Homo sapiens: one gene and its partners. Changing the gene in region 2 together with the main gene of any one other region gives a genetic interaction. Each region holds a gene or a part of one and is shown on either strand. Other genes may lie near its edges.

Region 1 (4,609 bases), on a different chromosome or scaffold from region 2:
GTTGTTTTTCTTTTTTAAATTTTTATTTTAGGTTTGGGGGTACATGTGAAGGTCCGTTACACAGTTAAACACCTGCCACGAGGGTTTGTCATACATATTATTACATCACCCAGGACCCAATTAAGCCCAGTACCCAACAGTTATCTTTCTGCTCCTCTCTCTCTTGCTACCCTCCCCCAGTGTCTGCTGTCTCCTCCTTTGTGTTCCTAAGTTGTCATTTAGCTCTGATGTTCTCAGTTTCTATTACAGATTTACACTTATCAATGTTTCAGGTGTTCTGCAGGGTGCTCATGGCTTCCAGGTAGGTGCACACTTCACCACATGGACACATTTCAGAATTGTTGCTTTAAATGTGTGCACACTTCCCACTGTCTTACCACTTGTCTGCTTGGTGTGTCTTGCAGATTATCAGGCTACAGTGATTTCTTGTATTTTATTTTGACCCTGTGTTCTGCTACCAACTTCCTAGGTTTGTCATGTACTAGACTCAGTGACATGGCCAGGTTCAAAAACTGTGTTTTTTTTTTTTTTTTTAAGATTTTTCCCAAGCTATTAAACATGTACCTTTCAGTATGTTCTACAACAATATAGTTCTCAAATCAAGGTCAGGACATTAAGTCCTACTTTCCTTTCTTCCATGAGAAGAGCTTAATTCTTTAGTCTTTTCAATTAGCTATAGATAACAGTTCTGAAATGTGTCCATGTGGTGGAATGTGTACCTGGAAGCCATGAGGCGCCTTGCACAACATCTGAGATAGGCATAAATCTGTGACAGAATTTTACACATAACATGTTCTTAAAAATGTTAGCTATACCTTATAAAACCTTAATTTCAAATGTGCTTTGGACATTTTTTTATGTGTACTTATGGAGATTTAACCATGACATTTTGGAGGTATTCAAGTTGAAATCTTTTATGATTTCCTTGGGCTTCAATAGAGGCCACAAATACAACATAAAACCATTTCTTATCATCTTTTGTCTCTAAGAACAGTAGTCTCCCTTTACCTGCAGGAGATACGTTCCAAAACCCCCAGTGAATGGCTGAAATGGGCATTTGGATAATACAGAACCCTATACATACTATGTTTTTTCCTATACATACTTATCTGTTGTGCTAAAGTTTAATTTATAAATTAGGCACCTAATTTATAAATTAGGAACATGAGATTCCCAACAAAATAGAGTAAATCTAAAAATATACTATGAAAGTTATGTGATGTGGTCTCTCTCTAAGTATCTTATTGTCCTGTACTCACCTATTTTTTGACTGTAGTTGGTTGTGGGTAACTGAAACCCAGGAAAGCAAAACCACATGACGGGGGGACTACTGGACTTAAGCAATGCCAGAAGAGTATGAATTACTTTATGTTAAGTGTCTGCTTTTAACACATTTTACACTTTTAATGTATTTGGGAATTTTGTGAAGGAACATGGCTTATGATCAGAGAGGTGAGACTTAAGAACACAAATCTCACAAAAAGTTTTTTTTTTTTTTTTTGAGACAGGGTCTCACTCCATCACCCAGGCTGGACTGCAGTGGTGCGATCTCGGCTCCCTGGAACCTCCACCTTTCAGGCTCAAGCGATTCTCATGCCTCAGCATCCAGAGTAGCTGCGATTACAGGCACCCACCACCAAATCTGGCTAATTTTTTTATTTTTAGTAGAGATGGAGTTTTGCCATGTTGGCCAGGCTGGTCTTGAATTCCTGGCCTCAAGTGATCCACCCGCTCCAGCCTCCCAGAGTGCTGGGATTAAAGGTGTGAGCCACCGCACCTGGCATCACAAAAAGTTTTAAAAGGAGCTCCTCCTTCCCCTGCCATTTCCCTTATTAATGTGAAACTAACTTACCAGCTATAGGATCCATGGCTTCCCTATTGCTTGGAGAATATGAACTCTGAGAAGAAGAAAGTCCACCAGTAGAACTGCTAGTAAAGTGCATGTTTGATCTACGAGCACGAGGACCTCCTAATCCCCGGCCAGGGTGAAACATTCTACGTACATGTCGAACACCACTCGATTCATCATAACCCAAAAGTTAAGAAAAAAACGAAAGTATTTCACAGAAAGAAAAAAAATCACCTGAGTCCTTGCTAGACAGATGTAAAGATTTCCTGAATTGTAAGCATTTAAAAACAGCACATTTAACTTAAAGTGCAAATGTCCCAACTCTATCTATGAGGGCTATTAACCCTAAAAAGACACTCAAATGTAAGGCAACATGTGAGTGTGTGTGTGTGTATTGGGTGTGTGAGGTAAAAAAGTTTCTCTATATAGCTCATGAAATCTCAAATACCACCTATAATGAAAAAGGAACAATACTGAATGTATATTCAGCACATCAAAGGTTCCTTTTGGATTATTAGTTTTACTCTGTCTTCAAGCTTCTTTCCAATGCCGCTGCTAAGCAGAAAACAGATTTGCATTTCTTGTATAAGACACACAGATAGATTAACATGACATTTATCACGAAGAAAAATTCCCAGCAGCCTCAACCGTCTTACACAGCTGAGTGTAAGTCAAACTGAAAAAGGTCCTGAGTTGCAAATAGCTGTCAAAACTCATGAAGACAACCTTACGTTTCCACAAAGGCAAATGAGAGGTGGGGGAGGCCAGATCATATAGAAGAGATTTTTCCTTTAAAGTACCAAACAGACCAGCTTTATAATGCAGATTAATTTTTTGGCTGGCTTCTCAGTTTTTCAGCTGATGGTTCTGGAGTTATTTAAGGACCGGATGGGTAGCTCCAAGAGGCCTTCAGGTGTCACGGTACATGCCCTGTTCCATCATATTCATGAGGATGGTTTGGGTTCTAGAGAAAGTGATATGATCATATTTATATATTTGATAATTTTATATTATGATTATATATACATATATATATGTATCTTGAGACAGGGTCTCACTTTGTTGCCAGGCTGGAGTGCAGTGGTGCAATCATAGCTTACTGCAGCCTTGAGCTCATGGGCTCAAGTGATCCTCCTACCTCAGCCTCTTGAGTAGCTGGGACCACAGGTGTGTGCCACCAGCTGAGCTCATTATTTTGGTAGAGATGGGGTCTTCCTATGTTGTCCAGGTTGGTTTCAAACTTCTAGGCTCAAGTGATCCTCCCACCTTGGCCTTTCAAAGTGCTGGGAGTATAGGCATGAGCCACTGTACCCAGCTGGTGACAGTTTTAGACGAACAATTCATAACCTGAAATCAGAAGCATTGAGTCCACAAAATTAATCGCTCTGGTAGGCCAGTAATCTCAGGGAACACTGCCAGAAACTGTTGAGAGACAAGGAAGGGAATGCAGAAATAAAAGCAAGAGGCTGGGCGTGGTGGCTCACGCCTGAATCCCAGCACTTTGGGAAGCTGAGGTGGGCAGATCACCTGAGGTCAGGAGTTCGAGACCAGCCTGGCCAACATGGTGAAACCCCATCTCTACTAAAAAAATACAAAAATTGGCCAGGCGCAGTGGTTCATGCCTGTAATCCCAGCACTTTGGGAGGCTGAGGCAGGCAGTCAGGAGTTCAAGACCAGCATGGCCAAGAGACCAGCCTGGCCAATATGGTGAAACCCCATCTCTACTAAAAATACAAAAATTAGCTGGGTGTGGTGGCGGGCACCTGTAATCTTAGCTACTTGGGAGGCTGAGGCAGGAGAATTACTTGAATCCAGGAGGTGGAGGTTGCAATAAGCTGAAGATAGCACCATTGTACTCCAGCCTGGCTGACAGAGCAAGACTCCGACTTTTAAAAAAAAAAGAAAAGAAAAGAAAAGCAGGAAAGGAAATTTAAAGCTAGAGCTGACCTTATGCTATCCTACTCAGGAACTCGGCAGGAAATGGCTCTCTCTGGAGAAGGGGACCCCAAAAAGGAAAGGAACACCAAGATGCACACCTGTCCCCACCATCTCACCACACCACACCCACAACAGGGTAAGGCAGCAGAGGAACAGAGAGGGAAAGCAAATAATGCCTCTTCATATTTAACTAATTAAATTTTAATTTGGATTAACATTTTCCTCTTTTGTATGAAAACGCCATCCTGGAAGACACAATTTGGTCAAACTGCCTTAAAAAAAATCTAATTGTAATGAACTAAAGATGAAGGACAAGTCAACTTTCACTTAATGAAAATGGTTCATACAATGGTGATAGTATATAAAAAGAGAAATAAATTGCATCTCAGCACTGAGTCACTTTTAGGAAAAGTTCAAATAAGTAAAAATAATTTGGACATTACTTTTCCTCTTTTGGGGGATATGATCCTTAAAAAAAATCAAAATGACAAGCTGGATGCAGTGGCACATGTGTGCCTATAGTCCCAGCTACTCAAGAGGCTGAAGCAGGAGGATCACTTGAGCTCAGGAGTTTGAGACCAGCCAGGTCGACACAGCGAGATCTTGTCTCCAAAACAAAAAATCAAAATGACAAACATTACAAACAACTCTTTTCCTTGTCATCTCTTAAAAGGATATTAAATCTCTAGGGGCTCTGTGTTCAAGTGTAAGATGAGCTGCAAAGTCATCCGTGACATGATTAGGATCGCCTCCAGGTAACGCTGCACATATTGGACAAATCTGAAATGGAAGTAAAGAAAGCAGCTTAATAAATGAACGTCA
Region 2 (3,282 bases):
GATGTAAGATCACAGAATCCCCCTCCAGCCCACCAGTCACACCTACCCCATTCAGTATTTATTACCCTGGCCAGGCCTAGTCCTCCACTCCCTGCACAGGACTGAGAAGGCAATGAAAGGTACAAACATGTACCATGAGGTCTTACTAACCAAAGTAGGGCTGCCCCTCCTGTCCTGACAGCCCCTTGGCCTCCCAGCATGGGGAAGCGTGAGGAGTTGCCCAGCAGTGAGCAGCCCCCCTCACTCCTGGCCCCATGAGCCGCAGCCACAGGCAGCAGAGGAGGGCTAAGGAGAGGAGGAAGCCTCAAGTCCATTGTTTATTACCCCGACTCTTAGCCCAGCACACAGTAGGCACTGGAGAGGAATGATTCCCAGTTTAACCACACTACGGTACCTTTTATGAAGAAAAATTAGAGCATAAAATCTACTACAAGCTCCATAGGAACTCAAAGATGAGGGCAAAACTGTGAGCCAAGAAGCAGAGAAAGAAAATAGAACCAGTTATTCTTGATTTAGGGGACCTCAACCTTGGGTTCAGTCTCTGAGGACAAAGGGAAAGGTAGTTGTTGGCCTGCCTCTCGCCTGCACGTCACTGCTGGACTAGCTGTCGCATGTGGCTGGGAGCTGCAAGGCCAGTGCTTGAGGGGCCCCAGCAGTTCCACAGGTGGTGAAGCCTGAGTTGGCAGAGGAGGAGCCAGAAGAGAACTGCCCTTTCTGCACTGGTGGAAACTAGTTATTTATGCCATGTGGAGAGCCAGTGAGATAGATAGATAGTCTGTTTGTTTTGAGGACTTGGAAAGTTGTTCCTATGAAGCCTGGAGCTTGGATGGTTTTGAGAGGTTAATGGTGCCTCCACACTCACTCTTCCCTAGTTCCAGGATTACTGTCCTAGCAGCTAACGGTTCTACTCTCTTCCCCAGAGTGTAGACAGGCAGCAGGTCTCCCCACAGCTCTGAAAGGACCCTGGTGACAGCTACACCCTCAGCACCAGGAGCTGGCCTTCCTGATGAGGGAGGCTTCCAGGAAACACAGAATCCACATGACCTTAAGATTATTTACAACTCAGTCATGGTGCTGCTGTCCTCCAGGCTTACTGGCCCCTCCTGACTGGCATCAGGGGCTTCCTCAGGTGGTGGAGAGAGTTTACTTTCAACAACTAGTTTATTCAAGAAAAGAACTTACTGATTCCTCTGTTCCTAAAGCAAGAGTGGCAGGTGATCAGGGCTGGTGTAGCATCCGGTTCCTTTAGTGCAGCTAACTGCATTTGTCACTGATGACCAAGGAGGAAATCACTAAGACATTTGAGAAGCAGTGGTATGAACGTTCTTGGACAAGCCACAGTTCTGAGCCTTAACCCTGTAGTTTGCACACAAGAACGAGCTCCACCTCCCCTTCTTCAGGAGGAATCTGTGCGGATAGATTGGCTGGACTTTTCAATGGTTCTGGGTTGCAGGTGGGCACTGTATGGCTGGGTATGGAGCGGACAGCCCCCAGGAGTCAGAGCCTCAGCCCGGCTGCCCTGGTGGAAGGTACAGGTGTTCAGCACCTTCAGAAAAGGGCATAAAGTGGTGGGGGACAATTCTCAGTCCAGGAAAATGCATTGACCATTGCTGGCTATTTGCTTACCTAGTAAGAATTGGATTCATTTTTGACCAGATTATTCTTCTATGCTTTTTTGCAATAAATCAAATCCCACATATCTACAAGTGGTATGAAGTCCTGCACCCCCCAGGAGGCCTGTCCAGGCATGTCTTCAGAGGCAGGGTGGGTTACACTCATTTACCTCCCCTCTCCCCACCAAATTATGACACAAACGAGTATGTTTCCTCTCTAGAACCCTGTAATGCCTCCTCCCCCATCCCCAGAGCTCCTTACTGTAGGTCTTACCCTGGACAAGGATTTTTTCAAGTTGGAGGCACAGAACATGAGCAATCTGACATTCCCACAGCCCCTCAAACATGCAAGGCTACTAAGGCAGGAGGAGTATAAATGATGGATATTGACCAAGACCTGCTTGGACGGAGACCGCCATATTATCTGTTCTCTTCGTTCACAAAACAGCCTTCACTTGTCTCAGAATTTGATGGACACATACTGTGATGAGCAGGAGCTTCAGATGCACTCTTTACACATTTTGTTGAAATAAACCTCTACATTTGTAGAAGAGTTACAGTTTGTCATTTCAATCCATGCCCAGCCACCTCATTTCTTGTTCTGCTTTCAGCAGGGGCTCAGTGTGGGGCAAGCCCCTCCATGGCCCTGTAACACCTAAAGCCCTTTGTCTCCTGAACTTGCATAAAGATGATGGGTAGGCAGTAAAAAGCTGGCCTTGGCCAGCCCTGTCTTATCCGCTGAATCAAGGTCAAACTCTGAAAGGCTACAAATGCTCGGGAACCCCGTAGCAGAGGGTCAGTTTTTTAGTTTCTGTTGAGTTTTTCAGGATGGGAAACTTCTTCCTGCTGAGAGCTGGATGGGAGTCCTGGCAGGAATGTCCCCTCCAAAAGAGAATGTCTTTAGAGCAGGGACAAGAAAGACCACAGCTGTTTAGTGAGGATAACAGCTCCAGGCCTTGGAAGCCCAGAGCCCACTGTCCTCCTCAGAAGTCCCTTCTCAGCATACAGGAAGTTGAGAGTGCTCTGATAACTCAGTGTAAACACTGGGGCCGCATGGCCCTTGTTAGAGATTTGAGAGGAAGGTTTTAGATTTTCTTTCTTTAGCTATTCATGGATTTTTAACTCTGGGCACAAAAAGGCACTCGGGGCAGGAAGCTCATGATTCCATGCCGTCAACCCTCTGCCTCAGTTTCTCTCTCTAAAAAAACTTTCTATGGGCTGGGCATGGTAACTCACCCCTATAATCCTAGCACTTTGGGAGGCTGAGGTGGGTGTATCATGAGATCAGGAGATTGAGACCATCCTGGCTAACACGGTGAAACCCCCTAAAAATATATAAAAAATTAGGTGGGAGCAGTGGCACACACCTGTAGTCCCAGCTACTCAGGAGGCTGAGGCAGGAGAATTGCTTGAACCTGGGAGGCGGAGGTTGCAGTGAGCTGAGATTGCACCACTGCACTCTAGCCTGGTGACAGAGCAAGACTCCGTCTCAAAAAAAAAAAAAAAAAAAAGCTTTCTATGAATCCCTATAATTAAGGCAGGAATAAGCACCAATTCCTGAATGTCTGCAAAGATACAGGTCACAGGAGGCAAATCCCTGCCCTTTGCTGATTATTAAACTCAATGTTGTATCTGTCTCTCTCTTTGGGATATATTGCAAAGCAAAGGG
Region 3 (4,609 bases), on a different chromosome or scaffold from region 2:
GGCAGCCCCAGGCTCGAGGACTCCCTGGTTGCCGTTTCCCTCCTACCTCGATGCTCCACTTTCGCAGGTCACTGGGGAGGCAGGCCCATGGCACATGAGGGACAGTGGGGGTGGGGGAAGAGGAAGAAGCACCCTGTAGCCTTTGGCCCACCCACGAGGCAGGGTGGAGGGTTCTTCCTGGATCCAAGGGTGGAACCTCCCCACGAGCCTGGGTCCATCCCCTTGGATAGCTTAGGAAGGAAGGAAAGAGCGAGCTGCACACAGCAGGACACACGGGGGACGGGGTTTGAGGAGCTTTGATACGAAACGCACCGGAGGGGAGGGGTCAGAGAAAGAGAAGTGGGGGAAGAGAGAAAAAGCAGAGAAGAGACACGATGCACGGAGAAAGGAGCAGCTGAAAGTGGCCTGGACTCCAGCCCTGGCTGTTGTCTGGTGGGTGCGGGATGGTGAGACAGTGCTTGCGGCACATCGTGGGGGTCGTAGCAGGCCTGTGGCTGGGGAAACAGGCTGAAGAAGACCACTCCAGGGTGGACGGGCTGGGGACAGGGGCTGCTTGAGATGACAGCAGAGCCGCTCTCAGGGCCAGGCAGGGGGAGTAGTGGCTACTGATACTCAATAGGGTCATCACACGAGAGGACAGCAGCAGGGCAAAGCCCCGGCTCCCCTGTCTGCCCACGGGCCTCCTGAGGGAAGAGGGGTGTCGTGTGGGGTGCCCCACACAGGACTCAGCACCAGCAGGTTTTCGAAGAGTTCGCTGGGCCCTCGGGTTTGCCCTCCTCCTCCTCCAGCTCTGCCAGTGCCAACTCATTGCTGGCACGCATCCGGAGGCCTTCCAGCTCCTTCCTATGGGCCTGCAGCACCAGCTCTGTCAGACGCGTGAATGACTGGAAACCAAAGGGCACAGGTTAGTCCAGTGTCTCCTCCTCTCCCCTGGCAACCCTGCAGCGGCCTGAGGGATAAGGTCCATCTTATGGCTCCTCCTCCCACCTCTGCTGGACTCAGCCCGAGAGAGCGGGCGCCTGGTCACCAGGGCTCTCACCTCTTTAATGTTGAGGTTGGTGCAGGCACTTGTTTCATAGAAGTCCATGCCATACTCCTTCGCCAGCTGCAAGAGAAGGACATTTCTGAAAGAGAGTCAGTAAGGCAGGGGAGGGGCCCATACAACCAGGCACAGGCTTCTGCCACTGCACTCACAACCATGCTGTGTTGTGACGATTTCTCAGAGTAGATAATTTCTCAGATGGGACTGGGAGCTCCAAGAGAGGGTAGCAGAGAATGGGGGAAGATCCTCCACAAATATGCCTCTCCATTCTTCCAGCTGCCACCCCACGCCTCCCAACACACAATCATATATCAGGAGATAAAGACACCATCCATTGTGGCAGTATGGCATCCTCGTAAAAAACATGGGCTCTGGAGTCCCACAGTCCCAGACCTGAATAGCAGCACTGCCACTGATGGCTAGCTGTGTGACCTTGGACAAGTTGTACATTCTCTGTAAGCCCCAGCTTTATCTTCTGTTAAAGGAGACTGAGTGTGTCTCCCATCCATGGTTGTGGGATGATTCAGTGGGGTCGTGCACTTAAAAGCGCTTGCCTTAGCACAGTGCCACACATAGAGTGCTCAATAAATACTATCCTAGTAGGCTTTGCCTCTACTTTCAAATTGGTCAATGACCATGTCTTATATTTTATACCAAACAATCAATTTCATTTTAAGTACTAATGGAACGCTATTGACTGAAAAGGGAGAGGAAAACTCTTGAGGTCCACGGACTGAGTGGATAACTTATCTCAGAAATACCAATCTTGGCTGGGCACAGTGGCTCACGCCTGTAATCCCAGCACTTTGGGAGACTGAGGCAGGTGGATCACCTGAGGTTAGGAGTTCGAGACCGGCCTGGCCAATATGGCAAAACCCCATCTCTACTAAAAATACAAAAAAATTAGCCAGGCGTGGTGGCATGCACCTGTAATCTCAGCTACTTGGGAGGCTGAGGCAGAAGAATTGCTTGAACTCAGGAGGCAGAGGTTGCAGTGAGCCGAGATGGCGCCACTGCACTCTAGCCTGGGTGACAGAGCGAGACTCCATCTCAAAAAAAAAAAAAAAAAGAAAGAAAGAAAAAAAAAATAACCAATATTTCTTTCTGCTCTCTGGGAGGATGGTCTCCCTGCATGCTTGGACATTCCCTCAGCGTCATCCTCCTACCCTTTCTGCCCCCATGGCTTCTCCAGCTGTGGCTCTTTGTCTCCTCATTTGCCTCCCTGGCTCTTTCCTGGGTAAGAAGGACAGGAGTGGGGGAGTGTTGGGTGGGATGGGAGATCATTTCTCGACCGTAACATGGCAGCTAGGCCTGGATGCTGTCAGAGAAGAGGTTGACAACTTGAAGTCCTTCATTACTAACACGGGGATGATCTCTTAAGCAGAGGGCAATCCTGCATTTGGGGACCTGGACTTGGGAGAGTTGCTGCCTATGACGTCTTTGTTTCTGGATGGACCCCGAATCTCTGGGCTTCTGTCCTGAAACCCAGACAACAAGCCTTCCGAGGATGGCCACTCCCCCAGGGCCTTGGGGTGCTGGGGACGTGTGGGAGGACCTGCCACTGGGGAACACACCCCTAGGTCCCCACGCTCAGGACTGGCCCTGGAGGCCCAGCAGAGGACCTGGGGTGGACTTGCCTTTTCCCTCCACTTACCTGCTGCCCTTGCTCTCTTCCCACCTGCCGTTTCTGCTCCTCATCAGCCTTATTCCCAATAAGGATCTTCTGGACGCCTTCTGGTGCGTACTAGGGACAAAGGATGGGCAGAACAGCCAGTGAGTGCTGCCTGCCCCCCCAATTTTCCCTACAGAGTCTGCACTGCCTCCAGCCCACCACCAATTCCAGAGCCCTAGGGACAGGGTGGGCCGACTGGATGCAGGTGCCAGGCTCCCCCAAGTGCCATGGCTGACCTCAAGGGTATCACGGGGAGAGCTTAGGGTAGAAGACACTCTGGCTAAGACTGGTGCTTCCTTGGGTTAGACCACTGGTATCAGAGCTGGAAAGGACATTGGATGTAAGTCCAGCCCTCATTCTACAGGAACTGGGGACCCAGAGGATTCAAATGGCTTCCCAAGGCTCCACAGCTATTGTGCAGAGCCAGGACTAGATCCCAATCTTGCAACTCCACCTGGTCCCAAGATTTCAGGAAAGAAGCTGCTCACAGGGAAGACTTGGAACTAATTCATTTCCGGGAAAGACACAGCCGTGGAGGCCTGGCAGGGTATAGAGAGTGAGGGCATGGCAGCTTCGGTTTCTTCCCCATGTCTTACTCACCCAGAGGTCTTCATCCAGGGCTGTGGAAGGCAAAGCTTCCTGGAAGCATTTGCCTTCCCATCTGGCCCTCGCCTTGCCTTCCCCGGTGAGGCACCCTCTCCACACCCCGGCAGTGAGGTGGCATCTCCTACCTCATCCACGTCACTGACCCACTTCATGATGTGCTGGTAAGAGCGCTCGCTGCTAATGTCATAGACCAAAAATATCCCCTGAGAGAGAGAGAAATAGAGAGATGTGATATGCACAGAGAGAGTGCAGTCATGGGGCCAGAAGGGGCCGTGGAAACTTAAAGGTTGGGTCCCACTCTCCCATTCTCCCTGCTCAGCATCCAGAAATATCTCTTCTCTCAGACCCCACCACTGCCGCCTCCCAGGCCCATCACAGAACTCTCTACAGCAGGAAGACACCACATGCTTTGACCTGGATCTTTGACCCAGGATGGAGGGTGGAAGTCAGGGGTGAGGGCAGGGGCCTGCCTGCAGTGAGTGGGCCATGAACAATGGACGGACAAATGATCAGTGAACAGCTGAAAGACGCCCTGCGCTCCTCCAAGCAGGCGAACTGTATTTAGGGGATCCGTGGCACAGACATCTCAAATACCCAGAGCTGGGAGTGTGGGTGGCAGCTTCCCACTTTGAAACCCCCAATGTGGTGGCTTACCTGGGCCCGCCGATAGTACTGCTTTGTGATGGTCTGGTATCTCTCCTGCCCTGCAGTGTCCCTGCAGGAGAAAGCCAGTCCCTCAGAGGAGCAGGGACCATGGGAACAGACGGGGAGGGGAAGAGCAGAGCTGTCCCCTTGTAGGAAAAACTGGGGAGCTAAAGGGTGAAAAACCAGGGATGCTTGGATCCCCACAGGGATCTGCAGTCAGAGGCCTGGTCATCTGTGCTGGTGCTGACCAGGCCTGCAGGGCCTTGGCCCCTCCTGCCAACTGCCCTCCTGGCAGAAACCAGAAGCCACAGCCAGAACAGGCCTTGGACAGCTCTCTGGAATCTGGCCACTGTGGCCAGATTTGGTTGGATGGGAGTTGGCAGGGGATGCTGCTACACCCCTAGTCCCTATGGGACCTCTGAAGGCAGTGCCCATACTGCTGTGGAATTGAGAGGGAGCTCTAAACCCTGGCAAAGGCAGTGCTTCCAAGACCTCAGGCAGAGAGCCACAGCAGCACCCTCTGCTACTGTGGAAACTTCATCATGCTATCCTGAGGAACTCTCTCAGGGTCTCGCCCTAAATGATGGGGGGTGTAGCCTCCTTCCTTCCAATCTTAACATAGTGTGGCACAGCCCAAGGGCAAA
Region 4 (4,609 bases), on a different chromosome or scaffold from region 2:
ATGAATGTACTGGTAGCAGTCTGCCAATATATAATGCCTCTTGTAAAAATACAAAGCACATTAAACCCCATATAAAATGAACATTTACTCTCTCAGCACCAAAGGTCAGACTAACAGTCTTCTACTATAAACTTTCAAGGGGCACCCTAGAAATGACCAAGAATGATTTTGTTTTTAAATGTTATGAGAAATCCTTTAGGGTGCACCCAGATCAATAAGATGACAGACATCAAAATCATCCTCTGAGGGCCCACATCACAGTATCCTATGAAAGAAATACTTACACATTAGTGTGTAGCTGGAAGTCCCCAGTCCTGTAGCCCACTGCAAAGTTATTCCTTGTCAGCTTTGATTTGGCACTGTCAAAGGTCATCTGGTAGCCAGCAAGCCAGCCCTCATAACCAAAGACAGCTGAACCATGGATTGCAGGTCCAGCAAAATCAAAGTCAACATCACAACCAAGGTTTATACACTCCCTCTTGTAAGAAGACTTGATTTTACCACTTTTCTTTCTGGAAAAAGAACAAACTGATGTCATTGGGAAAAATTTACACACACTTCTGCACAAGAGAGCACAAAACAGACTTAAATAAACTGCAGTATGACCAGGGAGTAAAAATCAGCAATACAATAACAGGGAGTAAAAAAGTCAGCTCAATGAACTACAAGACAAGGACACATGAAGCAACTGGACAGCCATCTAGGAAAACTGCTTTGCAGAACAAACAATCAGTCACAAAAGCCTGTTAGAAACACATTAGTTGCCCAAGTTAGTGCAACAACAAAGAGGCAAATATTTGAAGGCAAGCCAATGATAGCAACCATAGTATTCTAAAAGCAGATATGGGCCAGGCATGGTGGCTCCCGCCTGTAATCTCAGCACTTTGGGAGGCTGAGGCGGGCGGATCACCTGAGGTCAGGAGTTTAAGATCAGCCTGGCCAGCATGGTGAAATCCCGTCTCTACTAAAAATACAAAAAAATTTAGCCAGGCACGGTGGCATATGCCTGTAATCCCAGCTACTCAGGAGGCTGAGGCAGGAGAATCGCTTCAACCCAGGAGGCAGAGGTTGCAGTGAGCCAAGATCGCACCATTGCACTCCAGCCTGGGTGACAGAGAATAAACAAACAGGCTGCGAGCGGTGGCTCACACCTGTAATCCCAGCACTTTGGGAGGCTGAGGTGGGCAGATCACGAGGTCAGGAGTTCAAGACCAGCCTGATCAACACGGTGAAACCCTGTCTCTACCAAAAATACAAAAATTAGGTGGGCGTGGTGGCACATGCCTGTGATCCCAGCTACTCAGGAGGCTGAGGCAGGAGAATCACTTAAACCCGGGAGGCAGAGGTTGCAGTGAGCCGAGATCGCGCCACTGCACTCCAGCCTGTGTGACAGAGTAAGACTCTGTCCCAAATGAAAATAAAATAAAATAAAATAAATACAATAAAATAAAATATGGAAAAAAAAAAAAAGGCTGGGCGTGGTGGCTCATGCCTGTAATCCCACCACTCTGGGAGGCCAAGGTGGGCAGATCACCTGAGGTCAGGAGTTCCAGGACAGCCTGGCCAACATGGCGAAACCCCGCCTCTACTAAAAATACAAAAATTAGCTGGGCGTGGTGGCACGCACCTGTAGTCCCAGCTACTCAGGGAGGCAGAGGCAGAAGAATCGCTTGAACCCAGGAAGCTGAGACTGCAGTGAGCCAAGATGATGCCACTGCACTCCAGCCTGGGTGACACAGCAAAGACTCCATCTCAAATAAATAAATAAAAGCAGATACAGAGATTTCACCACCACAAGGTAGCTTAATAAGCTATCAAACAGTAAATGTACACCTTTTCTAAATATACAAAAGAGAAATACTTTTAAATGTAATACAGATAAAAATGTCTGTGCTTACCCTGTGTTTGGTGAGAAGGTAGTATCAAATGTCAGTTTCAAACCTTGACAAATCTATTTTGAAAGAAAAGTAATTTGTTTTCTTTTTTTGAAATACAAAAATAAATTAATAAAATTAATACTAAAATTTTCAAAATGTTACCTGGTCTTCAATTGCGATTTCTGTTCCCAGAGTGTTATCAGTGTTCCACTTTTCTGTGAAAGTCAGACCATACTCACACCACTTGTATTTGGTCTCCAAGGTCCCAGTAACTTTACCAGTGTCTGTATTAGATGAACCGGACGTTGAAAATTCCTAACAAGACAATCAATAACTTCATGAACATTCTCATAAGCCTAGAATTCATCACTGCCTTACACACGCACACACACACAAACCCCCTGAAACATTTGGTAAATTCATGAATCCTTTTTCTAGCTTCCTAAACACTCGTATCCTTCTGCACTGTGCTACTCTCTAAGCATATATAAGAGTGACAAATAAGCCTTTGAGCAACTGACTGCCACTTTACATACACAGCTGACACTTCCAATCAATCACAAGTTAACCTGTAGTGAATTCTCAAGTGAACAAACTGTACACCTTTTTTTTTTTTTGAGACAGAGTCCCGCTCTATCGCCAGGCTGGAGTGCAGTGGCGTGATCTCGGCATACTGCAACCTCCGCCTTCCAGGTTCAAGTGATTCTCCTGCCTCAGCCTTCCAAGTAGCTGGGATTACAGGTGCCCGCCACCACACCCAGCTGATTTTTGTATTTTTAGTACAGATGGAGTTTCACCATGTTGGTCAGGCTGGTCTCCAACTCCTGACCTCAGGTGATCCACCCACCTCGGCCTCCCAAAGTGTTGGGATTACAAACGTAAGCCACCACCCCAGCTAACTGTACATCTTTTAAGGAAGGTTTTGCTAAGGTGATTTTATTTGGGATTCAAAAATCAATGGGGGACTGAGTGTGGTGGCTCATGCCTGTGATCCCAGCACTTAGATACCAGCCTGGGCAACATAGCAAGACCATGTCTCTACAAAAATTAAGAAACCAGCTCAGCGTGGTGGTGTGCGCCTGTAGTCCCAGCTACTCAGGAGGCAGAGGTGGGAGGACTGCTTGAGCCTGGGAGGTCCAGGCTGCAGTGAGCCATAATCCCACCACTGCACTCAGCATGGGTGACACAGTGAGACCCTGTCTAAAAATAATAATGTGCCAATCCCTGGTTGCACACGAACTGAAAAAGAAAAAATACGGAGGGCTTATCTGAATTTTTTTTTTTTTTTTGAGACAGCATCTTGCCTCTGTCACCCAAGCTGGAACACAATGATGTGATCACAGCTGACTGCAGCCTCAACCTCCCAGGCTCAAGTGATCCACGTACCTCAGCCTCCTGAGTAGCTGGGATCACAAGCATCACCACGCCAAGCCTAAGGAAGACAGCTGATGTGAAAATAATAAAGAGACTACAGCCAGAAATTGTGATATCTGTAGAGTGAGAAATATCAAAAATTGTATCAATAGGAGGAAAGGCCAGTCAACCTTCTCTCAGAAAATAGAACATTTGTATAACTATTGCTCTGCTGTTAGAGACAAATCCTTAGGTCTTACATCACTCTCCTAAATTAGACCCTTTCATTAACAGGAATTTCAAGTCAAAGCATAGCCCTCAATACCTATACTAAAAAGCACTGGACTGGCTGGGTGTGGTGGGTCACACCTGTAATCCCAGCACTTCAGGAGGCCAAGGCGGGCCGATCACTTGAGGTAGGGAGTTTGAGACCAGCCTAGCCAACATGGTGAAACCCCGTCTCTACTAAACATACAAAAATTAGCCGGGCATGGTGGTGCATCCCTGTAATCCCAGCTACTCAGGAGTCTGAGGCAGGAAAATCACTTGAACCTGAGAACCTGAGGTTGCAGTGAGCCAAGATGGCACCACTGCACTCTAGCTTGAGTGATGGAGTGAGTGAGACTCCATTTCCAATTAAACAAAAAAGCACTGGATCATGTTAGGAAACACTAGATATAAAAATTAGGAGTTCTGATGTCCAGTTCTTCGTGTCATTTACTAAATGCATCACACTGAGCAGGACACAACATTTTGCGGTTTTTTTTGGAGACAGGGTCTCACTCTGTCGCCCAGGTTGGAGTACAGTGCCACAGTCATAGCTCACTGCAGCCTCAAACTCCTGGGCTCAAGCGATCCTCCTATCTCAGCCTCCCAAGTAGCTGGGACTTCAGGTACCCACCAACAAGCACAGCTAATTTTTAAATTTTTTTGTAGAGACGGGGTCTCACTATGTTGCCCAGGTGAGTCTCAGAACTCCTGGGCTCAAGGGATCCTCCTGCCTTGGCCTCCCAAAGCGCTGGGATTACAGGAATGAGCCACTGTGACCAGCCTCACTTAACTTTTTTGGGTCTGTTTCTGCAACTATAATTACAAAGCCTACCTCCGAATGATTAAATTGAACTGACACTGTGAAAGTTTGTACGTTTTCATATGCTCCACAGAAAAGGAAAGCATTACTAAAACAATATATATGGAACAGGTTTTTCTAGCAGTTTGAATGGGGAATGTGTGAGTAGCTATTTTTAATCCTGAATGACATTAATGACTCTTGGGGCCCCACCTACGGCCATTCATCAGCCCACAGATCAAGAGCCAGCCTATATACACATGCCAAGGAAGCCTCAAGAAACAAAGCCAACACCACCCTGTGGGACCAG
Region 5 (3,500 bases), on a different chromosome or scaffold from region 2:
ATGTGACTTCCTTTCCCTGACTGTCTCCCACAACCAGGGCCTGCTCCCTGAGAGGGGGCAGCCCTGTTTTAAACACAACCAAATCCCTGAGTATTCCTTATCCCTGGCTCCACCCAAGCACCATCAACACTAGCCCATTTTCTCCATTTCACTTGCTATACTGCAAGGCTGCACCCTGGTCTGGGAACCCCTTACCCCCCCAGCCTGGGCTCTCACCACTGGTTCAGAAGCTTCAAAAATCAATGACAAGTGGGGAAGAAAATCCCCACTGGGAAGTGGAAAAGAAACTTTCGTCATGTGGGGGCTGCAAAGGACCCAGGGCTTGGTCCCACCTCCCTCCCAGGCTACAGTTTGCCTTGGAATCAGCTGGGAGAGGAATGGTTTCACTCTATGAAGTTGTGTCTCTGGTTCACATTAAAAAATATTTCCATCCTATTTGCATGAATGAGAGAGAGTGTGTGTGTGTGTTTGTGCGCGTGCACGTGTGCATGCAACGTCAGGACATTCAGATAGAGACCCTCAGACAGTGGGTCAGGGAAGGGCATAAGGACCCTCTAGGCCAGTGGAGAGTCAAATAGAGACCTCAGACTGGAAGTTGAGAGACCTAAGTTCTAACCCCAGCTCTGCTGACTCACTATAACCAAGCATGAGGCATTTACGCTTGCTGGGCCTCAGTTTTCCTATCCAGGAATTAGAGATTAAAATGGTTGTTACAAGAGCACTAGGTGGATGAACTAAGACTTAAAGCTCCTTGGAGGCAGGGGGCATTATTTGTGCCCAGCGGATTACGTGGGAAGCCTTGACATTCAAAGCAGAACTCCTGGGCCTGTAATCTTCAGTTCCACACAGAGCAGGAGAGTGGGTGTTGACAGTATGACTGAAAAGCCCAGCACTGGGCTGGCCCAGGCAGGAAGGCAAGGAGGGAACTCCGGCTGGCTGTCACAAGGCCCAAGAGACTGGAAGTACAGCTCTCTAAAGAGGTGGTTATCAACTAGCAATCAGTAAATCAGCTCTCAAAGGAGAGGGGAAGGACAGCGTAGCTTCCGGGCTGGGAAGGGAACGAGGACCGACACTGGAAAAGGATGATGAGTATGGTAGTGTCCAGAAACAAGCAGAGCAAAGGCAGTGTGGTATAGGGCCAAGAGTACTGGATACCTGACTCTGATGTCTTGAGTTTATCTGCCGACCTTGACCCTTGATAAAAAAGCCCTCATATGGTATAAGCCTTTATAGGTCACATGTTATTATGTCATTTGACCTTTATAACAACCTGTTAGTACTATGCCTATTCTACAGATGAGGAAACAAATTCAGAACAGTAAAAGTAACTCAACATCACACAGCTAGTTAGTGTGGGAGCCAGAACACAAACCCAGTTTTGTGACCCAAAGTCCTGTGTTTTCCTTGGTGCATCATACAGTCTTCAAGTTACCCCTTACCAGCTAACTGTGTGACCTTGATCAGGTAAGTTACTGCCCTTCCTGGAGCCTCTGTTTCTTTATCTGTACAGTAGAAGTAATAATAGTACCCCTCCCAGCCTCAAGGGCAGCATCAAGGAACCTGACCATGGGAATGAATACACTTTGTAAACTGAAGTGCTGTACACACAGGAGGTGACAGGAGCAAAGCCTTTCATCCCAGAAGGCAGGAAGCACTGAGTATGCCTGTATCTGTGGTAGGGGATCAGCCCAGTCCTCCCTACTCAGGTCTAGTTCAGACCTTTATCCTCTCTCCCAAAACAACTCTTCTTTCTGAAATCCTCTGGCCTGAACTGGGTTGAATAAGTTACCATAGCCCATTTCAGGAGGGCATATAGAGTCTAAACTGTGCCAAACAGGAAGAAGGGATGTCAGTGCTGCAGGACACCAAACCAGGAGTGTGACCTATCTGGAGCGGGGTTCAACAATGACTTATTCACTAAGTGGCTTTTTCAAAAGAATCATTAAGCCCAGCTCAGTGGTGCACCTGCAGTCCCAGCTACTAGGGAGGCTGGGCCCAGGAGTGAAGGGTTGTAGTGTGTACACTAGTCAAGGTTATCGTCCCTGTGAGTAGCCACTGCACTCCAGCCTGAGCAACACAGCAAGACCCCATGTCTCAAAAAAAAAAAAAGTTATTTAGTAAATCAATGGTTGCCAATCTGTTTTGTTTTGTTTTTTCTTTTGGAGCAAGGTCTTGTTCTGTTGCCCAGGCTGAAATGCAGTGGTGCCATCACAGCTCACTGTAGTCTCAACCTCCCAGGCTCAAGGCATCCTACCTCAGCCTCCTGAGTAGCTGGGACTACAGGCAGGCACCACCACACCTGGCTAATTTTTGTATTTTTAATGCATCTTTTTGTTTGTTTGTAGAGACAGGGTCTTGCCATGTTGCCCAGGCTGGTCTTGAACTCCTGGTCTCAAGTGATCCTCCTGACTAGCCCTCCCAAAGTGCTGGGATTATGGGCGTGGGCCACCATGCCTGGCCAGATCTGTATGTTATTAGACAAATTACAATGACTTATTCTGGCTTTTTAGTCCCAATTCAGATCATGCCTGGTCCCTCATACTGGCATTCAGAGTTCTTCACAATTTGATAAGGGATATTAGAGTTACGTAGACTTGGGTTTGAATCCTAGTTCTGCCTCTTACCAGCTGTGTGACCCTGAGCTTCTGATGATTTGCCTCTCTAAGCTTCAATTTCCTTATCTTTCAAATGCAGTGGCAACGTACAGTACCTACCACATAGCACTGTTATAAGGACTAAGTGCATTAATGTATAATATGTGCACAATGTAGGTACTTTGCAAGTGTGAGTTCCCAGCTCCCTGTTCCAGAGGGATTTTCAATGTCCTCTGCAAACAAGCCAGGATCATTCTTGCCTCTGAACTTTTACTCTTTGTTTTTCCCTCTGCTGCCATTCCCTCTCCCTTCTCTAATCTTCCTTACTCCTTAAGGCCTAACTTAAGTCTCACAGTTGCATAAGGTTACTGAATTCTTCTTTGGATATCCATTGCATGGCTACCTGTCGCCCAGGTTAGAGTGCAGTGTCGCGATCTCAGCTCACTGCAATCTCCACCTCCCGGGTTCAAGTGATTCTCCTGCCTCAGCCTCCTGAGTTATTGGGATTACATGCATGTGCCATCATGCCCAGCTAATTTTTGTATTTTTAGTAGAGACAGGATTTCATCATGTTGGCCAGGCTGGTCTTGAACACCTGGCCTCAAGTGATCCACCTGCCTTGGCCTCTGAAAGTGCTGGGATTACAGGAGTAAGCCACTGCACCCATGGCCACCCCTTTTAACCCTGCTTTGGCTCTGTGTGATTCTCCTTTTCCAACAGTCATACGTAAGTTTCCCAGCTGTACATGCCCTTCAGTACTGAAGCCTTGGCTTCTCTGGACTAAATGACAAAAAAAAACCTCTAAGTATAGGGCTAGGCACACAGGACTGTACAACCATTGCCTTTTGATCTGCTTGTACCAGCCCTCATCACTGAGATATGGAGAGACTTCTCTGAAGCCCAGTA
Region 6 (5,063 bases), on a different chromosome or scaffold from region 2:
AAAGATCCATGCAATAATTAGGACACCCTGATGCTGAAAGATTATTCATTGCATATCAGAAATCCAAATCTAACTGTGTTTCTCGTAGTTTATCTAGCAACCTCAGCACAAGTTTTAACTCAAGAAGTCCCAACTTCTAGACAATGTACCCCTGACTTTGGATAAAGGAGATGTAACTACCTTTTGTGTGGAGGCTGCCAAATTATGTCAGAAACTTTACATCTATATTATATCCTAAAATGGAAACTATTAGTAAAAAAGATTGGCAGGCAATTCTATGAGCATTTATTGTTTACTATGACACAACTAAAGATTTGATAGAAGCACCAGTTTGGGACATATAACCAAAATCAATATACTAATCATCACCTATTCATATATCCAATGATTGGTTCCTTCATTCAAAAAGTATTTTTGGGCCTACTTTTTTAATGTTTTATTTTTGAAACAGGGCTTCACTCTCTCGTCCAGGCTGAAGGGCAGTGAAGTGATTACAGCTCACTGCAGGCTCAACGTCCTGGGCTCAAGACATCCTCCCACCTCAGCCTCCTGAGTAGCAGGGACGACAGGCATATGCCACCACAGCTGGCTAATTCTTGTATTTTGTGTAGAGACGGGGTTTCGCCATATTGCCCAGGCTGGTCTCGAACTCCTGGGCTTGAGTGATCTGCCCACGTCGGCCTCCTGAAGTGCTGGGGTCACAGGTGTGAGCCATCCTGCCTGGCCTGAGCCTACTATTATGTGCATAGTTATGCTAAGAGTCAAGGTAAAAAAAAAAAAAGACAACTGTAGATATGACCTTCACATAAAGTGCTGGGCAACCCAGGTACTCAGAAGGATTGGTTTGTTTTTATTGTGGGAAGGAGGCGGAAGCGGAACTCATGTGTAAGGTGCCTATCGTGCAGGTACTCCATCAGTGCTTTCAGCACATGCCTTAATCGTCATTTAGCTCAGCAGTGGTATCACAGTTACAGCAGAGAAGACAGATGCTCAGGAAAATTAAATGACTCACCTGAAATCACTCATCTAGAAAGTGGCTGACCCAGGGTTTGAACCTAATTTTTTTTAACTCCACAAAGCACATTATTCACATTGTATAATACAACCTCCAAACAATTGTTCTGTAAAGACATTTGCCAAATGCAAAGCAGTAATTTCTTGCATGAAAGATGAGATTTTTTCTCCTGTGTTTCTATCTGGCTACTTGCATAATAAATTCTATTGACTTGTTATTTTAATATGACACTAAAACCTGGCTTTTCAAGATGCAAGAAGCCTGGGATTGGAGTGGGCGGAAATCAAAATCTTGGCCTTAGCTTGTGAACCCCATATATATTGAGAGGTATTAAAGTGTGATGGATTGCATGCTCTGGAGTTTTATAGATCTGTCTGATTCCTGCCTTTAACAAAAAATTAGCCATGTAAACTTGCACACAGTGCTTAACTTTGCATCTCTCAGTTTCCTCATATGTTGTCAGGATTGAAAGATATTTTATATATTATATATCTATATATATATACACACACATACATATATCTATATTATATATACATACATATATCATATATATACCACTTATCGTAGTACCAATCCCAAGATAAACTTACCTTATATAAATAAATAATAAATGAAAGAATGAATAAATAAATGTTATCTGTTTTATTGTTACTATTAATAATAATAGCAGCAAAATGATTTATAATTCACTTTCTCCTCTAGTGCTTTAGAAGATAATATAAATTTTAAAAATGCTATTAAAATATTAAACGATTGATATCCTAGAAACAATCTTCAAAGTCAATAGTTTAATATTTTCTTTTTTCAAGTATTATATGGGATAGCCTTTATTTACAGTAACTACTTTGTTGAGTTTCTTAGTGAATGTGAATATAATGTTCTTAATAAACAGTATTGCTGATATTTGTAGAGTTTTAATAGTTTACAAAGTAATTAAAAAGCATATTCATTTGACCTGGTGAAGTTGATAGTTATCCCGTTTTACAGATAAAGAAACTGAGGTTCAAAGCAGTGAACGATTTAACCAGTTTCAGAGTTTATAAGAGACAGGGTGGTGCCTGGTCTTGGTATCAAATCTCTCCTTTCACTTCACTGTAGTGATTTCTTTAGGAGTAGAATGGACTGAATAATATCCGTGGCCATGTCTAGAGTAATTCTGTTGTAATGTCTGTCTGTGTGTTCTTCAGCCAAGTTACATTCAAAGGATTCTGTCACTAAATGTTTGCACTCCCTCTGTTTTCTGGTCTATCATTCTGAATGGAGCTCACAGACTTTTGCAGACAAACAGTAAATTAATTAATGAGAAGGCAGCATACAGCATGAGCTTCTATGTGCTTGGAAAAGGTGGGAAAGAAATAGTTGCTCGATAATAGTAGAAAGAATCTAGGAACCTAGGTTTCACTCCCAGATGCCACTTTCACCTGTATGTATGCTCAAGTAACTTGCCCTCTGCAACCTGTTTATTAACCTGCAAAAAGGAAAATGATAAAACTGTACATGTTTACATCATTGGATTACTATGAGAACCAAATGAGATTATACATGACAACAATAGCAGGTAGTATTTATTGCATGCTTACTATCAACCAGGTACCCTTCCAATTTGTTTCATTCCTTTTATTTAATTTTCATGATAACTTTACGAGAAAGTTAAATGTCCCCATTTATATGTGAGGCCTAGAGAGATTGAATAGCATTCCTAAAGTCACATTTCTGGTTAGTGGTAGAGCCAGGTACAGGAGTTTTATTCCAGAGTACATATTCTTCACCAATGAACATTATTAGGAATAATTATCAAAAAATAAATGCCAGTCAGCTCCCATGGAATTTATACTAGAATAGTGTCATTATATCATAAGAGCACATAAAAAAATTTCAAACTTCATACATCCACTGAAAATAGAGGCTAGGTTTTTATTAAAATTCTACTTTCTTTGTGTTAGAAGATACACCTCTTGTCTCCCAGGCCAGTGCTCTTTCTGGAGTGCCCAAAGACCCCTTCTTTCTTTTATGTTCTGAATCAGTGCCATCAGCTTTCTCTAGTCACTGCTAACTACTGAACAATTCATGGGCTGTGATCAGAAGCACTTACCTGCATAGCAGGTCAGGAATAAGACAAGCAGTCCCAGGACAACTGTCAGGCGAAGTACTGAGACAGCCATTCTGGTAGCACGGGGTATTCGTGCAGATAAATTGTTCAGATACATGTGAAACAATGCTCCATTTATAGGGCATAGATAGGTGACATCATCTGCTTTGGAATTTAGATTGTTGCACAAGATGTCTGCACAGCTTGCTTTTGGATCTGTACTAATGAGACATACCCTATCATTCAAACCAAACATTTTACATATAGGGAAAGAAAAACCCTCTTGATTTTTAAAATTTGTATCTATAAAGGGTTCTGGAGTGAATCTCTTGAGGCTAGTTTCAAGGCCAGCATTGATAATTAAAGGGATATCAGGTAGAATTGCTCGTCAGTGCCAAGCAGCAGGCAACAAATCAGATTGGCAAGGCAAGCCTACACCCTCCCTTTACACTCTATGCCTTCCCTCGTGCTCTGGGACAATCCCTTGTTCCCACATGGGCATGCCCTTTCACACCCCATGCGTCTGCTCTTGCTCTTCCTTCTTCCTCAGATACCCTCCTCCTTGTCTCCCTTCGGATCACTCCTACGTATTCCTCAGTTCAAATGGTCCTTCTTTGTGATACCTTCATGATAACCACTCCACCCTTCTCCAGGCAGTTTGTTACTTCATCATCTGCCCTATAGCACACTTGACCCCATTGTATAAGAACTAAGTGTTGGCTGGGCGCGGTGGCTCACACCTATAATCCAAGCACTTTGGGAGGCTGAGGTGGGCGAATCACGAAGTCAGGAGTTCAAGACCATCCTGGCCAACATGGTGAAACCCCGTCTCTACTAAAAATACAAAAAATTAGCTGGTCGTAGTGGCAGATACCTGTAATCCCAACTACTTGGGAGGCTGAGGCAGGAGAATCGCTTGAACCCTGGGAGGCGGAGATTGCAGTGAGCGGAGATCACACCACTGCACTCCAGCCTGGGTGACAGAGTGAGACTCTGTCTCAAAACAAACAGAAAACGACAACATAAACTGTCTTATTTATTTTACTTTTATTTTTCTCTTTTTTTTCCATCAACTTTTATTTGAAGTTCCAGGCTACACATGTAGCCAGCAGGATGTGCAGGTTTGTTACATAGGGAAACATGTGCCATGATGATGATTTGCTGCACAGATCAACCTGTCACCTAGGTTTCTTTCTTTCTTTTTTTTTTTTTTTTTTTTTGAGACTGAGTCTCGCTCTGTTGCCAGGCTGGAGTGCAGTGGCGCGATCTCAGTTCACTGCAACCTCCGACTCCCTGGTTCAAGTGATTCTCCTGCCTCAGCCTCCCTAGTAGCTGGGACTACAGGCATGTGCCACCATGCCCAGCTAAGTTTTGTATTTTTAGTAGAGACAGGGTTTCACTATGTTGGCCAGGATCATCTCAATCTCCTGACCTCGTGATCTGCCCGCCTCAGCCTTCCCAAGTGTTGGGATTACAGGCGTGAGCTACCGTGCCTGGCTGGCACCTAGGTATTAAGCCCAGCATCCATTAGCTATTCTTCCTGATGCTCTCTTTCCCCTTGAAACCCTGACAGACCCCAGTGTGTGTTGCTCCCCTGAATGTGCCCATGTGTTCTCATAGGAGAACTAAGTGTTTTAACAGCTCTCTTCTCTTTCAGCTTGTGGATCCACTTATTTGTTTATTGGCAAAATATTGTACATATTCGTGGTGCACAATATGATGTTTTGAAATATGCATATATTGTGCAAAGGCTATATCTGGCTATTTAATACCCAGACTACTCATACTTATCTTTTTTTGTGTGGCGAGAACACTTAAAATCTGCTCTCTTAGCAATTTTCAAGTATACAATACAATGTTATTAACTATAGCCACCATGATGTAAAATAGATGTCTCAAACTCATTCCTCCTATTTAGCTCAAATTTTATATCTTTTGACCAACATCTCCCCAATC
Region 7 (4,609 bases), on a different chromosome or scaffold from region 2:
CTGGAACTAGTGATGGCTGCACATTTTTGTGAAAATGCACTACTAAAAAGTGAATTGTACACTTTAAAAGGGCAAATATTAAGATACATGTAAAATTAATATGATATATGGTGAATTTTATCTCCTAAAAAAGTAGACATACGGTTCAAAGTTATTAGTTTCCTTTCCCATAATCTTTCAAAATGCTAGGGTATAAAATTATGTTGGTTGCCAGGCATGGTGGCTCATGCCTGTAATCCCAGCACTTTGGGAGGCCGAGGCCGGCGGATCACAAGGTCAGGAGTTTGAGACCAGCCTAACCAACATGGTGAAACCCCGTCTCTACTAAAAAAATAGAAAAATTAGCTGGGCGTGGTGGTGTGCGCCTGTAATCTCAGCTACTTGGGAGGCTGAGGCGGGAGCATTGCTTGAACCCGGGAGGCGGAGGTTGTGGTGAGCTGAGATCGTGCCATTGCACTCCAGCCTGGGCAATAAGAGCACAACTCCGTCTCAAAAAAAAAAATTATATTGGATGCATATAATTCATGCTTTGATGAGAATGCTTTAGGAAGTTTTTTGAAGTTTTTTGTTTTTTTGTTTTTTTTGAGACGGAGTTTCACTCTTGTTGCCCAGGCTGGAGTGCAATGGCGCGATCTTGGCTCACCACAACCTCTGCCTCCCAGGATCAAGCAATTCTCCTGCCTCAGCCTCCCGAGTAGCTGGGATTACCAGCATGCACCACCACGCCCAGCTAATTTTGTATGTTTAGTAGTGACAGGGTTTCTCCATGTTGAGGCTGGTCTCGAACTCCTGACCTCAGGTGATCTGCCCGCCTCAGCCTCCCAAAGTGCTGGGATTACAGGCGTGAGCCACTGCACCTGGCCTTGAAGTTTTTTTTAAACTTCCATTTACAGTGAGGAAAACATTTTATGTATAACCCATGTACACATACAAATTCATGTTTATGTATTTAAAATTTATTTTGAGGCAGGGTCTTGCTCTGTCACCCAGGCTGGGGTGCAGTGGCAGGATCATGGCTCATTGCAGCCTTGGCCTCCTGGGTCAAGTGATCCTCCCACCTCCTCCCGAGTAGCTGGGACTACAGGCTCAAGCCACCATGCCTGGCTAATTATTTATTTATTTGTATTTGTATTTATTTATTTTTTGAGATGGAGTCTCACTCTGTTGCCCAGGCTGGAGTGCAGTGGTGTGATCTCGGCTCACTGCAACCTCCGCCTCCTGGGTTCAAACGATTTTCCTGCCTCAGCCTCCCAAGTAGCTGGGATTACAGGCGTGAGCCACCATGCCTGGCCTAAATTTTTTTTTTTTTTTTTAAGAGGCAGAGTCTCACTATGTTGCCTAGGCTGGTCTCAAACTCCTGGCCTCAAGGTGCTGGGATTACAGCCATGAGGTACGGTGTTCTGCCCACTTATGTGTTTAGAGCGATTCAAAAGGAAAACACTTCCAAAAAGTTATTGCTCATTAACAGGGTTATATATATATAAATGTAAAGACATTGTGTAAAGGAACTGTTGTGATTAATTCTAGGATATTATAAAAATTCAGCCTGTGGCCGAGAGCAGTGGCTCACGCCTGTAACCCCAGCTACTTGGAAGGCTGAGGCAGGACAATCAGTTGAACCTAGGAGCAGAGGTTGCAATGAGCTGCGGTCGCGCCACTGCAGTGCAGCCTGGGCGACAGGGCAAGACTCCGTCTCAAAAAAAAGAAAAAAAGAAAAAAAGAAATTCCACCTGTGTCCTTGTGTCACGTGGCACACAGCATAAGATTTTAGTCTTGCTCATACCAGACTTCCTTCAGCTGCTCTTCCATGTGGTAGCCATTAGTACGTATAACCATTTCACATGAGATGTAACTGATAGGACTGAGGAAGTGAATTTTAACTTACTTGAATTTTAATGGTTATATTGTACAGTGTAGCTGTGTAGCATAGCATTTTGTGTCACTTCATTTTCTCAAGGTTTGGAGAAAGATTTTTGATGTACATACCAAATGTCTATATAAAACCTAAGTACTGAGCAATATATTTTTTCTAACTTTATTGGGTGTACTTTACATACTGTATAACTCACCTATAGGTTTTAGTTACAATCCAGTTTTATAGTACACTTTGTTGCAAAAAGTTCTCATGCCCATTTTCAAGTTAGTCCTGCTCTAGACAACCACTGTTCAGCTTTCTTTTTGCATAATTTTTTCTAGAAGTTTCATGTAAGTGGAGTAGTATTTTAGTCTTTTGTGTTTGGCTTTTTTCACTTAGTGTAATGCTTCTGAAGCTAACCGAAGAGCTTTTTCACATTTGTTGCGTGTATGGATTTGTTTCTTTTTGAGCAGTGCACATTTTAAACTAATTATCAGTTTTATCCTGTATTTAAACAAGTTTCATAAAATATTAACTTGCTCATATTGTCTGTGGAAGTGAAACTTAAAAGTTAGCATCAAATAATTTACACAAAACATAGAGGTTGGGTGCAGTGGCTCACGCCTGTCACCCTAACACTTTGGGAGGGTGAAGCAGGAGGATTGTTTGAGCCCAGGAGTTGCAGACCAGCCTGGGCAACATGGCGGAAAAAAAATTAGCTGGGCACAGTGGTGCTTGCCTGTAGTCCCAGCTGCTGCAGGAGGCTGAGGTGGGAGGGAGGTCACGGCTGCAGTGAGCTGTGATTGAGCCTCTGCACTTTAGCCTGGACAACAGAGTGAGACCTCATCTCAAAACAAAACAAAAACCACACAAAGTCTCAAGCAATCAATTAAAAATGAAAATGAGGAGGCTGGACATGGTGGCTCACACCTGTAATCCCAGCACTTTGGAAGGCTGGGGTGGGCAGATCATGAGGTCAGGAGTTTGAAACCAGCCTGGCCAACATAGTGAAACCCCGTCTCTACTAAAAATACAAAAATTAGCCGGGCATGGTGGTGTGTGTCGCCAAATCTGTAGTCCCAGCTGAGGCAGGAGGATCGCTTGAACCAGGGAGGTGGAGGTTGCAGTGAGAAGACCGCGCCTCTGCACTCCCCAGCCTGCGTGACAGGGCGAGACACTGTCTCAAAAAAAAACAAAAAAAGTGATTAAAATTCTTAATTCCATATACCCTCACCAATATTCTGTATCAGCTGCCCAAGTATTAGATAGGATGGGCTCAATCCTAAAAGGCACAACCCCCATATTTAACATCCCTAAAATTGGGATGTCTTACAATTGATGACAGGTCAATTGGGAGTGTAAAAGAATAACATAAGCTGGGTGTGGTGGCTCACGCCTGTCATCCCAGTACTTTGGGAGGCTGAGGCAGGTAGATTGCCAGACCTCAGGAGTTCGAGACCAGCCTGGGCAACAGGGTGCAACCCCGACTTTACTAAAATACAAAAAAAAAAAAAAAAATTAGCCAGGCATGGCAGCATGTGCCTGTAATCCCAGCTACTTGGGAGGCTGAGGCAGGAGAGTTGCTTTAACCAGGGAGGTGGAGGTTGTAGTGAGCTGAGATCACGCCACTGCGGTCCAGCCTGGCCGACAGAGCGCAAGACTCCGTCTCAAAAATAAAAAAAAAAAGAATAGCATGTTAAATTTTGTGAAATAGAGTATGCACAGATATTATGCATATATTTTTATTTAAAAAACCAGCTGGATCAGGCGCCATGGTTCCTTCCTGCACTCCCAGCACTTTGAGAGGCCAAGGCAAGAGGATCACTTGAGTCCAGAAGTTAGAGATCAGCCTGGGCAACAAAGCAAGCCCCTGTCTCTACAAAAAGATTTTTAAAAGAGCTAGATGTCGCAGTGTGCACCTATAGTCCTAGCTACTTGGGAGGCCGAGGCAGAAGAATCGCTTGAGGCCAGGAGTTTGAAGCTGTAGTGACATAGGACCACACCACTCCACTCCAGCCTGGACAACAAAGCGAGACCCTGTCTCTGGAAAAACAACACAGCTAGTAAATTTAAAACTATACTTTGCTAATAAGCATTATTTATCAAGTCCATAATATAGCACATCTACACATTAAGACGCAGTTCTAGTCTGGTTATATATTATTTTCAGTAAGAGAAACACAATGTTGCAAGTTGTATAAAACTTAGATGAGTGACAAGATGATTTTAGGGGTTTGTTCTGATGTATAATTTTTTTTTTTTTTTTTTTTTTGAGACGGAGTCTTGCTGTCGCCCAGGCTGGAGTGCAGTGGCGCGATCTCAGCTCACTGCAGGCTCCGCCCCCTGGGGTTCACGCCATTCTGTTGCCTCAGCCTCCCGAGTAGCTGGAACTACAGGCGCCTTCCACCTCGCCCAGCTAATTTTTTTGTATTTTTAGTTAGAGGCGGGGTTTCACCGTGTTAGCTAGGATGGTCTCGATCTCCTGACCTCGTGATTCGCCCGCCTCAGCCTCCCAGAGTGCTGGGATTACAGGCATGAGCCACCGTGCCCAGCCTGTATAAATTTAATCACACATGGTTGAATTAGATATGTTGGTAAAAATAACCCAAACTAGAAAAACTTAGAGTCACACAAAGCAATAAACAACTACAAAGCCTAGAGTTGGTATTAACAATTTATAAACTAATAGCTCTAACTTTGTATATCATGAAGTTTTAGAATCCAGAGACACCTCACCAAGTCTCATGACTATAC

Evidence for each region.
Region 1: changes in ACACA (region 2) and KCMF1 together harm fitness less than expected from each alone (positive genetic interaction), as found in Homo sapiens cells (one large-scale study listed by BioGRID).
Region 3: changes in ACACA (region 2) and RAB15 together harm fitness more than expected from each alone (negative genetic interaction), as found in Homo sapiens cells (one large-scale study listed by BioGRID).
Region 4: changes in ACACA (region 2) and VDAC2 together harm fitness more than expected from each alone (negative genetic interaction), as found in Homo sapiens cells (one large-scale study listed by BioGRID).
Region 5: changes in ACACA (region 2) and RHOG together harm fitness more than expected from each alone (negative genetic interaction), as found in Homo sapiens cells (one large-scale study listed by BioGRID).
Region 6: changes in ACACA (region 2) and C5orf46 together harm fitness less than expected from each alone (positive genetic interaction), as found in Homo sapiens cells (one large-scale study listed by BioGRID).
Region 7: changes in ACACA (region 2) and NOP58 together harm fitness more than expected from each alone (negative genetic interaction), as found in Homo sapiens cells (one large-scale study listed by BioGRID).

Annotation. Positions count from the first base shown.
Region 1 is NC_000002.12:85,043,522-85,048,130, reverse strand, and holds part of KCMF1 (E3 ubiquitin-protein ligase KCMF1), read right to left. Parts: intron 4,568-4,609; coding exon 4,466-4,567; intron 2,028-4,465; coding exon 1,853-2,027; intron 1-1,852. UniProt on the Homo sapiens protein: E3 ubiquitin-protein ligase which accepts ubiquitin from an E2 ubiquitin-conjugating enzyme and then transfers it to targeted substrates, promoting their degradation by the proteasome.
Region 2 is NC_000017.11:37,083,876-37,087,157, reverse strand, and holds the end of ACACA (acetyl-CoA carboxylase 1), read left to right. Parts: 3' UTR 1-2,166; downstream 2,167-3,282. UniProt on the Homo sapiens protein: Cytosolic enzyme that catalyzes the carboxylation of acetyl-CoA to malonyl-CoA, the first and rate-limiting step of de novo fatty acid biosynthesis.
Region 3 is NC_000014.9:64,947,629-64,952,237, forward strand, and holds part of RAB15 (ras-related protein Rab-15), read right to left. Parts: intron 4,036-4,609; coding exon 3,975-4,035; intron 3,524-3,974; coding exon 3,446-3,523; coding exon of another isoform or gene 3,315-3,445; intron 2,787-3,314; coding exon 2,697-2,786; intron 1,106-2,696; coding exon 1,040-1,105; intron 885-1,039; coding exon 726-884; 3' UTR 1-725. UniProt on the Homo sapiens protein: The small GTPases Rab are key regulators of intracellular membrane trafficking, from the formation of transport vesicles to their fusion with membranes.
Region 4 is NC_000010.11:75,216,646-75,221,254, reverse strand, and holds part of VDAC2 (non-selective voltage-gated ion channel VDAC2), read right to left. Parts: intron 3,368-4,609; exon of another isoform or gene 3,297-3,367; coding exon of another isoform or gene 3,264-3,296; intron 2,193-3,263; coding exon 2,040-2,192; intron 1,952-2,039; coding exon 1,899-1,951; intron 513-1,898; coding exon 285-512; intron 1-284. UniProt on the Homo sapiens protein: Non-selective voltage-gated ion channel that mediates the transport of anions and cations through the mitochondrion outer membrane and plasma membrane.
Region 5 is NC_000011.10:3,830,960-3,834,459, forward strand, and holds part of RHOG (rho-related GTP-binding protein RhoG), read right to left. Parts: intron 1-3,500.
Region 6 is NC_000005.10:147,903,322-147,908,384, forward strand, and holds the start of C5orf46 (uncharacterized protein C5orf46 precursor), read right to left. Parts: upstream 3,218-5,063; 5' UTR 3,181-3,217; coding exon 3,111-3,180; intron 1-3,110.
Region 7 is NC_000002.12:202,268,045-202,272,653, forward strand, and holds part of NOP58 (nucleolar protein 58), read left to right. Parts: intron 1-4,609. UniProt on the Homo sapiens protein: Required for the biogenesis of box C/D snoRNAs such as U3, U8 and U14 snoRNAs. Part of the small subunit (SSU) processome, first precursor of the small eukaryotic ribosomal subunit.